Homo sapiens: one gene and its partner. The protein of the gene in region 1 purifies or fractionates together with the protein of each later gene. This does not show direct contact. Each region holds a gene or a part of one and is shown in the gene's direction. Other genes may lie near its edges.

Region 1 (7,070 bases):
CACCCCTGCCTTAGAAGAATCACTTGCAAACTCACCCACAGGGGCTTTTCCTTAGGGCACAGAAGCCACACACAGAAGCCAGCTTATCCAGGGTGACTGATCCAAGAGATAGCAAGAGAGTGTCCAAGACAGAAGTCACCATCTCTTGATAACCTAATCTCAGAAGCAACATGCTCATCACTTCTGCCATATTTTGTGCATTAGAAATGAGTCCATAAGTCCAGCCTACACTTGAAGGGAGGAAATTACACAAGGGTATGAATACCAAGAGGTGGGTTAATTGGGACAATTTCAGAGGCTACCTGCCACAGGTAAGGTATTATTATCCTTCATTTCATACCTAGACACCCAGCTAGTTAAGCAACTGGTCCAGGTCACCCAGCAGAGAGTGATCTGAGTCCAAAGTGGTTTTCTATTTCCCCAGGCTGGCGGGGGGTGAGATGGAGGAAGGCAGGGAGAAGTTACTGGTAGGAAAAAAAAATAATGAGGATGGAGTCTCTGTTATTTATCTACTGCTGTGTAACTAATTACCCACAACTTAATGGCTTAAAGCAAACATTTATTATCTTATAGTTTCTATGGATCAGGAATTCGGGAGCAGCTGAGCTGGGTGTTTCTCAGGGTCTCTCAAGAACCTGTGGTTAAGCTGTGGGCTGGGGATGCAGCTTTGAAGCCCTGACCGGGGCTGAGCCGCTACTTCCAAGAGAGCCCACTCACATGGCTGTTGGTGGGAGGCCTCATTCCTCACCGACCAGGCCCCTTTATAATCGTGCTTGAGCCTCTTTAGGACAGGCAGTTGGCTTCCCTCAGAACGAGTGATTCAAGAGTGGCTAAGCAGAGCCTCAGTCTTTTGTGACGTAGCCACAGGAGTCATAACTGTCGTTTCTGCAATATCCTGTTGATTACACAGGATAGGTCAGCCCTATTCATTGTGGGAGGTGATTCTAGAAGGGCATGGGAATACCAGGAGATCAGGGTCACTGGAGGCTGGCTACCTACCACAGGCTTCCACAAGATTGATAATCCGAAAACTTAACTTGTATTGTTGTTCCCTGCTCAAAGAGACCCAGAGCCTTCCCACGTACTGCAGACACAATCTGATTTTCTTAGCTCCATCTCCCACTGGCTCTTGAGTGGATGGACCATCTGGGACTGACAGCCTGGTCTGCTCACAGACCTCACCAGTCCCACAGCGGAGGCCCATGTTGATACCTCCCCTCCCATCCGCTGTTCTGTTGGTAAGGCCTGCCTCCGTGGGAAGGCCTGCCTCCCTGGGAAGCCTCTATTCAAACTTCAACGCATAGTTAGTGCATCCCCAGCATGTGCAGGGTCTGGCTGGATGCTAGGATATGATGGTGATACCACCTTGTCTCAGGGAACTTTCCTTTTTTTTTTTAAATTATACTTTAGGTTCTGGGATACATGTGCAGAACGTGCAGTTTTGTCACACAGGCATACACGTGCCATTTGTGTATGGCATCATTGTTTGTGTACCCATCAACCCGTCATCTACATTAGGTATTTCTCCTAATGCTATCCCTCCCCTAGCCCCCTACCCCCCGACAGGCCCCTCTCAGGGAACTTTCACTCAGATGGGGTAGTAGTTACTAGCGAATTAATAATAACCTAATCACACGTCATGCCCAGTTCTCCCAAGGAAACCTACAAGGTACCATGCGATTATGTAATAGGGGACTGGCCTAGTCCATGAGCATTGGGGCAGTCAAGTAGCTAGCCAGGCTGCATAGGTGTATCAGCATTGGGTTTAGGTGTAAGTGTCTGAAAATACAGAATAACAATAGCTTAAATAAGATAGATGTTTGTTTCTCTTGGGCAGGTGTTTGAGGACAGGTATTTTGCCACTTAGAGACAGGAACTCAGGTTTTTTTTTTTTTTTTTTGAGACAGAGTCTCACTCTGTCGCACAGGCTGGAGGGCAGTGGTGTGATCTGGGCTCACTGCAACCTCTGCCTCCCAGGTTCAGGCGATTCTCCTGCCTCAGCCTCCTGAGTAGCTGGGATTACAGGCGTGTGGCACCACGCCCGGCTAATTTTTGTATTTTTAGTAGAGACAGGGTTTCACCACATGTTGGTCAGGCTGGTCTCGAACTCCTGACCTCAGGTGATCCGCCCACCTCGGCCTCCCAAAGTGCTGCAATTACAGGTGTGAGCCACTGTGCCCGGCAGGAACTTAGGCTCTTTTTGTCTTGTTGCTCTGCTCTGTGGTGGCCTCCACCTTATGGTCCAGGATGGTGACGCCTACATTCCTGGCAGCCAGATGGAGAAAGGGACACAGAGGGTAAAGCAGACATACCAACTATCCCAGATGCCCCACAAGACACTTCCCTTTACTTCTCAATGCCACATCTAGCTACAAAGGAAGCTGGGGAAATGCAACTTTCACTGTGAGCACCCACATGCCCAGCCAAAAGTTGGGAGCTCTATCCCCACTCGAAAAGAGCAATGATAGTCAACCCTGTCTTGCATTTACTCTGTGCCAGGCATTTGCTGACCTTGGATATCATCCCAAATGCACACTTGATTCAGTAGGTCTGGCCTGGGGACAAGAGTCTGTCCTGTGATGGCCATGTGGCTGGTCTGTGGACCACAGTTTGAGGAGGGAGGATTCGAGGTCAAAGATCCATCATTGCATGTTTCCTCCCACACAGGGCCAACGAATGGCTGTTTGGAAGCAGTGGCTGCTCAAGATCCCTTAACTCTCCCTGCTGTCCCTAGGTTTCCAGTTCAGGCTGAGATTTCCTTTTCTCCCCCAACAGTGTCAGACCACTGACACTGAATGAATGAATGAATGAATGAGTGAATGAATGAAAAGGGAACGCAGAGGTCAGGTCCCGGCATATGCTCTAGGGGAAGGCTTTGGTTCACCACGTCACCCTACCCCAGACCCCGTGCTAGTGTTGTCCCTTCTGAATCCTCCCGGAGGAACCAGCACTGCTGTTCCCCTCTATTTACACAGGGGGAAACTGTCCATTGACTCTGCTTTTGGAACCCGAGCCCTCACCATTCTCCCCTGGGTTTTTTGAAGCCCTGTCCCACCACAACCTTGGAGAAAGGGCCAGTGACAGAACCTCGGGGAAGTTCAGAGTGAGTTTCCCCTACTCAGGTCTTGTGTGACCTCAACTACCATCTCCTCTAATCCAGCAGTCACGGAGGCAGCTGCTCTGTATTCCTGAGGAGGAAACTGAGGCTCTAAGAAGGAGACAATCGGCACAGTCCACGTTGGCCAAGTCACAGTGCAGGTCCCATCTGCCTCTGCCACAACCCTGCATGTTCTCGATGGACCTGGTTCAGAGCAGATGCTCTGTGAATGCCCACTGGAGTGAACGACAGGGGCAGATGGAAGCAGGGACAGCCACTGCCAGCCTCAATAGTTTCAGGTGCCTGGCACTGTGCTAAGCCAGTCTCCTGTTTCTCAGCTGATCCCCAGGAAAACCCCCTCAAGTAGGTGTCATCGTCCTCTTTGTGCAGATATGCAAAAGGGGCGGGGCGGGGGGGGGGCGCTCTGAGAAGCCCAGTGGCTTTCCCAGAGAGACACGGCAGGGGCAGAGGTGAGTCCACCTTAACAGCCTAGGATGGCCGACCTCTTCCCTTCCCCCACAGTATTAGGCCCTCACTCAGAGCTAGACGCTGTGCACGGCCAAAGTCTGTATCACCCCGCCCCCCGCCCCCAACTCAATCACAGTTCAGTGAAACTGTTTACAAATGCAAAAAACTGGGCTCGGAGAAGCAGAGAATTTGTCCGAGGGCATCCAAAGAGATGGAGAAGGAAATCTAAGTGGGAGGCTTGAAGGAATGAGTACTGGAGTCTTTGGGGGACTCCCTTCCCTTCCGACAGCCTCGACTCTCCGCCCCTTCCCTGCCTGCCCGCGGGCCCCTTTAACCGGGTGGCGGAAGGGGCGGCCGGGCGGGCGGCGCCCAATGGGCTGCGCGGAGCGTCACTTCCCGGCAGCGGGAGGCGAGTGGCGAGTGGCGAGTGGCGAGTGTCAGGGGGGCGGCCGGCGGGGGCGGGGCGGCCGGAGGAGGCGTTGGCAGCGGGCTCGGACCCACGCGGCGCCGCGGCCCGCCTGGCCTGCAGCGCTCCCACCCCCGGCGGCGGCACGATGCCCTTTGACTTCAGGAGGTGAGTGTGGCGACCCCGGCCAGTCGGGAGTTCCCTCAGCGGGCAGAGGGAGCGCCCCGGCACGCCGCGGACCCCTCCCGCCCTGCATGCAAAAGCGGCTCCCCGCCCTGTGCATGCCTCCGCAGGCCCCTAGGGACCCCAGGCGAGCCCCCCCCCTGCCGCACACGAAGCCAGCCAGAGCCGCGGAGGCCCCCTCGTGCAGCGGGAGACAAATCCACCCACCTTCCCTCCGCCGAGCCCCCTCCCCAGCCTGCCCGGATACCTTGCATTCCCCTCCCCCACACTAGGAAACATTTCCTCCCTCCTCCCAGATGGGAACAGCCCATAACACCCCAGCATCCCTCTCCTCCCTCTACTGAGCCTCCTTGGTGGACCCCACCTCAGCTGACAGGTGGGGCAGGGCACCTGGAATGAGTCCGGAGGGGCCTGGGGCCCCATGCAGCCTGCCGGCAGCTGGAGGGTTTTAAGTTTCTATAGCCTGAGGCTCCCCCAGGCCGGGCAGATCGGGAGGCCTGCCCCCGCCCCTCCCTCCCTCAGCCCCAGCCCTGTCCGCTGGGTATGGGGGCACCATGGGAAGGGGAGGAGGCGCCTTGGGCAGGACTCTGCAGAAGGGCCACCGGGGTCTGGCCTTGGCTTTCTGCAGTCACCACAATGGGTCCTTTGTGGGGTCCAGCTGCCTCATGGTCTAGGTTGCATGGGGCATTCTGGAAGCCTGCGGGGGAAGAGATCTCCACCAGAGGTTCCCTTGAGGTGTGGAGCCCCAGGGGATGTCCTGGCCTGAGGCAGCCACACTTGGTGTCTGGCTGGGAAAAGAGCAGGGCTTTAATGCAGGGAGGAGCTGGATTAGAATCCTGGCTCTGCCCTTTCTACTGAACAGCTCGGTATATTCTAGAAGTTAGGGGCAAAGGCTCTGGGTTCAGAACTCCCTGTCGCCGCTCGGCTGGCTGACCTCAGCAAGTCTCCGAGCGCCCTCAGTTTCACCACCTGCAAATTGGGGCTAAAAATAAGGTCTCCGCTTGTGACGACTGAGTGCGTGAAACACCCTTAGCAGAGTCTGGCATGATTTAGAGCTCAGAAATAGGGCATTAGTGGATGGGGGGTGTTCTCCAGGAGGGGTTTTCCACATCCACAAAATAGTGATTCAGATGCCTGTGCCACAGGAGGTATTTCTTCCCCTCTTCTTGCATGTGAAGGCAGTGTAAAGTGACAGTCTACCCAGAGAGAAAGGCCCTTAGCCTGCCATGACCCCCATAGCATGGGATATATTGGGGTTTAGGCCCAAAGAGGACACTGGTCTTGGACCTCTTGATTGGTTGACATGGTTTTCCAGCCTGTCCGGGTCCCTGATACCAGCTAGCAAATGTTTGCCGGCTTCTTGCCCCTGCCGGGCAGCCCTGAGGCTAGCAGACCTAGGCAGTTTTGAACAAGGACAGCCCCTCTGGTGGAATTCAAGGTCAGTCCTAATAGCATCAGTTAAGTCTGGGCCATAAGAGCTGTGGTCGGCACATCAATTTCTGGTTCCACAAAGCCTCCCCTTACCCAGGCCAACCATAGGGATTCGTGCCACCGCCGCCCCCTGCCCCTGTGTGATTCAGTAGGTTCCGGTGATTTTGAGCTTGCTGGGGAAATTGCTGTTTTTGATCTTTTAATCCTTTCTCCCTGCACCTCACCCTTCCGTCTTACCAAGGAGGAAATGAGGCTCCAGGGATGAGGGCCTTATCTTGGACTTTATGGGTGCTAAATGGGAAGGGTAGACTTAGGTCTCAGGTCACACATGGCTCCCAACCTTGTGCTCCTTGAATTGGTGGCTTGTGGGGGCAGGTAAGGGAAGTAAGGAAAATGGGTAAGGCCAGCTCTAGCCTTTGGCCTTGGAAGGGCCCTGTGTCAGGCATTGATATTTAAAGAGAGAAATGCTCAGCTCTGAGAAGCTGGCTAGTCTGGGGCTCCCTTGGCATACTTCAGGTCCCTGAGTGCCCAGGTGTCAGGGGGCCCAGCTTAACTAGGAAATACTCTCAGGGCTTGGGCTCACTGCGGAATGGTGAGAATGGATTCAGTGCTTCACGTTTGCACCTTGGAGGATGAGCCATGTGTGCCCAGCAAACCTGCACTCTTTAAGCTCTGTGAACTTCAAGGCTCCAGGACCTGGGTTCTACTGAGGGTTCGACCATCCCCATGCACCTTCCTCCGCTTCAGTGTGCATTCATCAAGCATTCATCAAGTGTCCAGTCCATGCTCAGCCCTCTGCCACAGGCCCCACCGTGAGGAGGTGGGTGGCATGTGGTCCGGCTCTCTTTGCATTCCAAGAGAAGGGAGGAGGGCTTATGGGGTCCCAGGAGTGGGGGTGTGCGTGAACTGGCACGCAAGGAGCATCTACCACTGTATACACACTTTGGGGTGCAGACATCGATTCCCTTGTCACCTGAGAGAGGGAGTTTTAATCTTCATTTTAAATCAAAGGAGAGGGGAGCTCCACTGAGTAGAAGCCCTTTGCTCTGGCCATGCAGTGCATGAGCTGGTGGATCTGGGATTTGAACTTGGGGCTGTTAGCTCCAAAGCCTTAGATCTGGGAGAAAAGGGAGAGATTGGAGGGGCCCACCATCCTGTCAGCTCTTTTAAGAATTGTGGGGAGTGGAGAGGGGTATACCGTGATTAGACCTCCTCCCCCAGTTCAAGGCCAGGGAGAAAACCAGCCGTCCTGCTCGTGTTCCCCTTCTTAAAATCAGAAGCAGGAAAAATAGTGCACTCTTGCCCTTCCCTACGGATACTTCTGATTTTCTTACTGCCTGTAGAGCCTGGTGCAACTGAGTTCTGTGTTTTCCTGTCTGTGAAATGGGAATGAGGAGAGTACTCACCGAAGTAGAACAGTTGAGGGATGAGGCAGTGCGGAAAGCATTTAGACACAGAGTAAGCGCCTCATCCATTTTGGCCGCC
Region 2 (3,709 bases), on another chromosome or scaffold:
ACATTGAGATAGCAGCTTACAGGTACTGCAAAGGACCTGCTTACCCGAGTAAATCCAGTCACCTAGGGGCAATGCTGCCCAAATAAGTGGATCTAGTCTCTCTGGCTTCTGACTGGTGAGGGAGGGAAGAAGGGCATCACTGGCCCCTTTCAGGTGAGCTGACTGCTCTGTCCCTCTACTTAGATATAATCCAGCTCCATCTGACTAGTCCCAGAGTATTCTGTGTACCTCTGAAAGGATTTAAGGGGATAATGTGAGTACACAGAGGTTAAAATAAAAACCCATGAGACTCGTAACTTTAAAAATAGGGTTTGGGGCCAAGTGCAGTAGCTCACTCCTATAATCCCAGCACTTTGGGAGGCCAAGGTGGGTGGATCACTTGAGATCAGGAGTTCAAGACCAGCCTGGCCAACATGGTGAAACCCAGTCTCTACTAAAAACACAAAAATTGGCCAGGCGTGGTGGCACACACCTGCAGTCCCAGCTACTCTGGAGGCTGAGGCAAGAGAATCGCTTGAACCTGGGAGGTGGAGGTTGCAGTGAGCTGTGATCATGTCACTGCACTCCAGCCTGGGAGACAGTGAGACTCTGTCTAAAAAAAAAAAAAAAAAAAAAGGATAATTAAAAACTATTAAGAGTTATGAGAAACATGGTTTGGGGCCACTCTTTTATAAGACTGTTTTCGTCACGCTGATAAAAATCTGTTATCTGAAACAGTGTCATTCACTGGTTTTTGTTATTGCTGGTTCTATTCCCTTTGTACCCGTATACACTGAAAAAGTACAAATCTCAAATCCAGGTTGAGTAAGACAGTTTCTACCACCTTTGTGGACATCTCACCTCCTTATCCCTATTGCAGCTAAGGTGTTACTTAGGAAAAGTACTTCTCCCTAGAGCTTTGTTGCTAATTGCCAAAAATGGGTGTGATGTGGCCAAGTGGAGTTGCAGGTTTTCCTCCTGGAATATATTTGTGAACAGGATAGGTTTTCCTTTGACAATGCTTTAAACATAGCTGGTGCTGAAGGGGGGTGTGTGTGTGCGCATGCGTATGCACGTGGTCCAACCCTTTGAGCTTTGAAATTAAATATTTATTGGTTTCAATCTCATGAAGAAACTCCAAAGTCCTTTGGAATCTCTCTCAAATGAATCAGGATTGGAGGGTTGAGTTCTGGGGGGGAAAAGTTATTGACTTCCTAAGAGTTTTTCTCTGTTGAATTTACAGGAAACTGCTGGAAGGCGAGGAGACACGTTTTAGCACCAGTGGGTTAAGCATTTCGGGGCTGAATCCACTTCCCAATCCAAGTTACCTGCTCCCACCTAGAATCCTCAGTGCTACAACCTCCAAAGTCTCATCCACTGGGCTATCACTTAAGAAAGAGGAGGAGGAGGAGGAGGCATCTAAGGTAGCCTCTAAGAAAACCTCCCAGATAGGGGAAAGTTTTGAAGAAATATTAGAGGAGACAGTAATATCTACTAAGAAAACCGAGAAATCAAATATAGAAGAAACCACCATTTCAAGCCAAAAAATATAATTCCATTGCTTTGAAAAAGTTAATGCTTAAGAGGGAATGATATGCATTTGACTTGTTAAACAGCCTATTCCTGAACTATAACACCTGCCACCACTATAAAATGTCTTCAAGGCTTCAGTCTCATATTTAGTATTGAATACTTACATTCTCTAATAAGAAAACCACCCCTTAGATTGAAGTAAACTGCAGTCCTGGAGCAATCACAGATGAGTTATCTAAGAATACAGCTTTCTGACCTTCAGCTCACGCTTCACAGTGATCGATGATTCAGGTGCAGAGGAAGTACAAACTAAGGTGCTAAATCTGCGATCATCGTCATTTGCTGTGAACTGAAATTAAAACTATTCATGCTACCCAGCCATTACCCAGCTAAATAATCTTACTCTAGATACCTAAAACATAAGATCACTGCCAGAGATAAACTAATGGTCCACACCCAATTCCACTCTGATAGAATTATTTCACAAATAATAGGTGTTTGTTTAATGGACACTTTTCACCTCCTTCAATTCCATATATCCTTTTCTTCTATGTAGGAAAAAAATAGTCTAGTGTAGTATTCTTCCCTTTTAAACACATTTTGGTTCTTCTCAAAAGAACTTACCCCCATTCGCGCTCTGCTCAGTGGGTAAAATTAGATGCATGTTGACCATGTCTATGATTCGTGTAATTACTTATCCCTGCCCATTTCATATTCTTTCAATTCTGTAGGTTAAAAAAATGGCAGTGATGAATTTTAAGGGTTTCCCCCAACATATAAAATAATGCAAAGAATCCCTAGACTTTAGGCTTTCAGCTTACACAAATCTATTTAATTAGGAAAAAAACTATTAAGGATGTAGCTTTTCACCTTTACTTTAGAAGCACAGTAAATATCCCAAACTGTGATGAAGCCGACCTTAGATTTAGTAGTGTAAGCTAGAAGAAGTGAGTGTTTCTATGAGTGGAAAAAGCCAAGGTGTCATTTATGTGTCAGTTCATTTGTGGTGATATAGAATTAGCTTTTTCATCCCCTTACCCTTAGAATCCACGTATTCCCCTTCCCACTAGCCTAGGTCATAAAGAGGCGTTGCTTTCACTCTCCTATGCCTTTTACGAGTGCTAAGTGTAGGATATTTTGTCACCAGAACACAATGCTACCGCCCCAAAGTAAAAGAAACCACTTCTGGTCAATCAACACTACCAGCGTATATATAAGAAAGACATCTTTCTCTTTTCTAAAAGACTTCCCTAACACTTACCCCATGGCTGCACAGTTGGTGGGGTCCTGCCGGAGAGGAAGAGACACTCAGACCAGAGAAGGGGTGTGCATGCGCCTACTCGCTTGCTAGAAGTAGATTCTGGACAGTCAGCTCTTCATCTGCCCAACTGTGTAGCATCTGCATTGCCCAGTCTTTCATGTGTGCCAAGGCTGATGCAGGATTTGTTCTCTGTCCAGCAGTCACTTCGGCCAGAGCTGAAGAGTTGCCCCGTCTCTGTTCCATGTCTCCTTTAAGAGCTCTGGTGATAAGGACATGATGCTTTTACTGAACTTTCTTATCCTAGCACATGCTTCAATAGTTCAAGGAACTTGAAAAATACTTTTCCTTACCTTTACCCCATCCCTGTCTTTACTCCTCACACTTACTGTAAGACATTAGTAACATAATAAATTAAAAGTCACACGAATCTCACCAACATAATTCGTGTTCTGTGGTTCCTGCCCTTTCACTGAGAGAAGCACTGTTTGGGTTCAGAGTCAGTCTGGCTCTGACTGATTTGTATCTTCTCTTTTTAGTGAGCCACCTTAATTGCCATGAACTTATTTATAGAAGAAAGATATTGGCCAAGCGTGGTGGCTCATGCCTGGAATCCCAACACTTTGGGAGGCCAAGGTGGGGGTGGTGGGGCAGATGGCCTGATCCCAGGAGTTCGAGACCAGCCTGGGCAACATAGGGAGACCTCATCTCTCAAAAAAATACAAAAATTAGCCAACTGTGGTGGCTCCTGTAGTCCCAGCTACTGGGGAGCTGAGGTGGGAGGATCACTTCAGCCCGGGAGGTGGATGCTGCAGTGAGTTGAGATCACGCCACTGCACTCCAGCTTGGGCAACAGAGTGAGACCCTATCTCAAAAAAAAGAAGAGTAACTTACAGAGTTGAAAAATGATTAATTCAGAATAATAGATAACATGGAAAA

What was found. The genes of interacting proteins can lie anywhere in the genome.
Region 2: the proteins of ERGIC1 (region 1) and INA purify together in Homo sapiens (affinity purification with mass spectrometry; 3 studies listed by BioGRID and IntAct, with this or other methods). This does not show direct contact.

What each region holds. Positions count from the first base shown.
Region 1 is NC_000005.10:172,830,295-172,837,364, forward strand, and holds the start of ERGIC1 (endoplasmic reticulum-Golgi intermediate compartment protein 1), read left to right. Parts: upstream 1-3,956; 5' UTR 3,957-4,119; coding exon 4,120-4,139; intron 4,140-7,055; exon of another isoform or gene 7,056-7,070. UniProt on the Homo sapiens protein: Possible role in transport between endoplasmic reticulum and Golgi.
Region 2 is NC_000010.11:103,287,138-103,290,846, forward strand, and holds the end of INA (alpha-internexin), read left to right. Parts: coding exon 1-22; intron 23-1,222; coding exon 1,223-1,532; 3' UTR 1,533-3,209; downstream 3,210-3,709. UniProt on the Homo sapiens protein: Class-IV neuronal intermediate filament that is able to self-assemble. It is involved in the morphogenesis of neurons.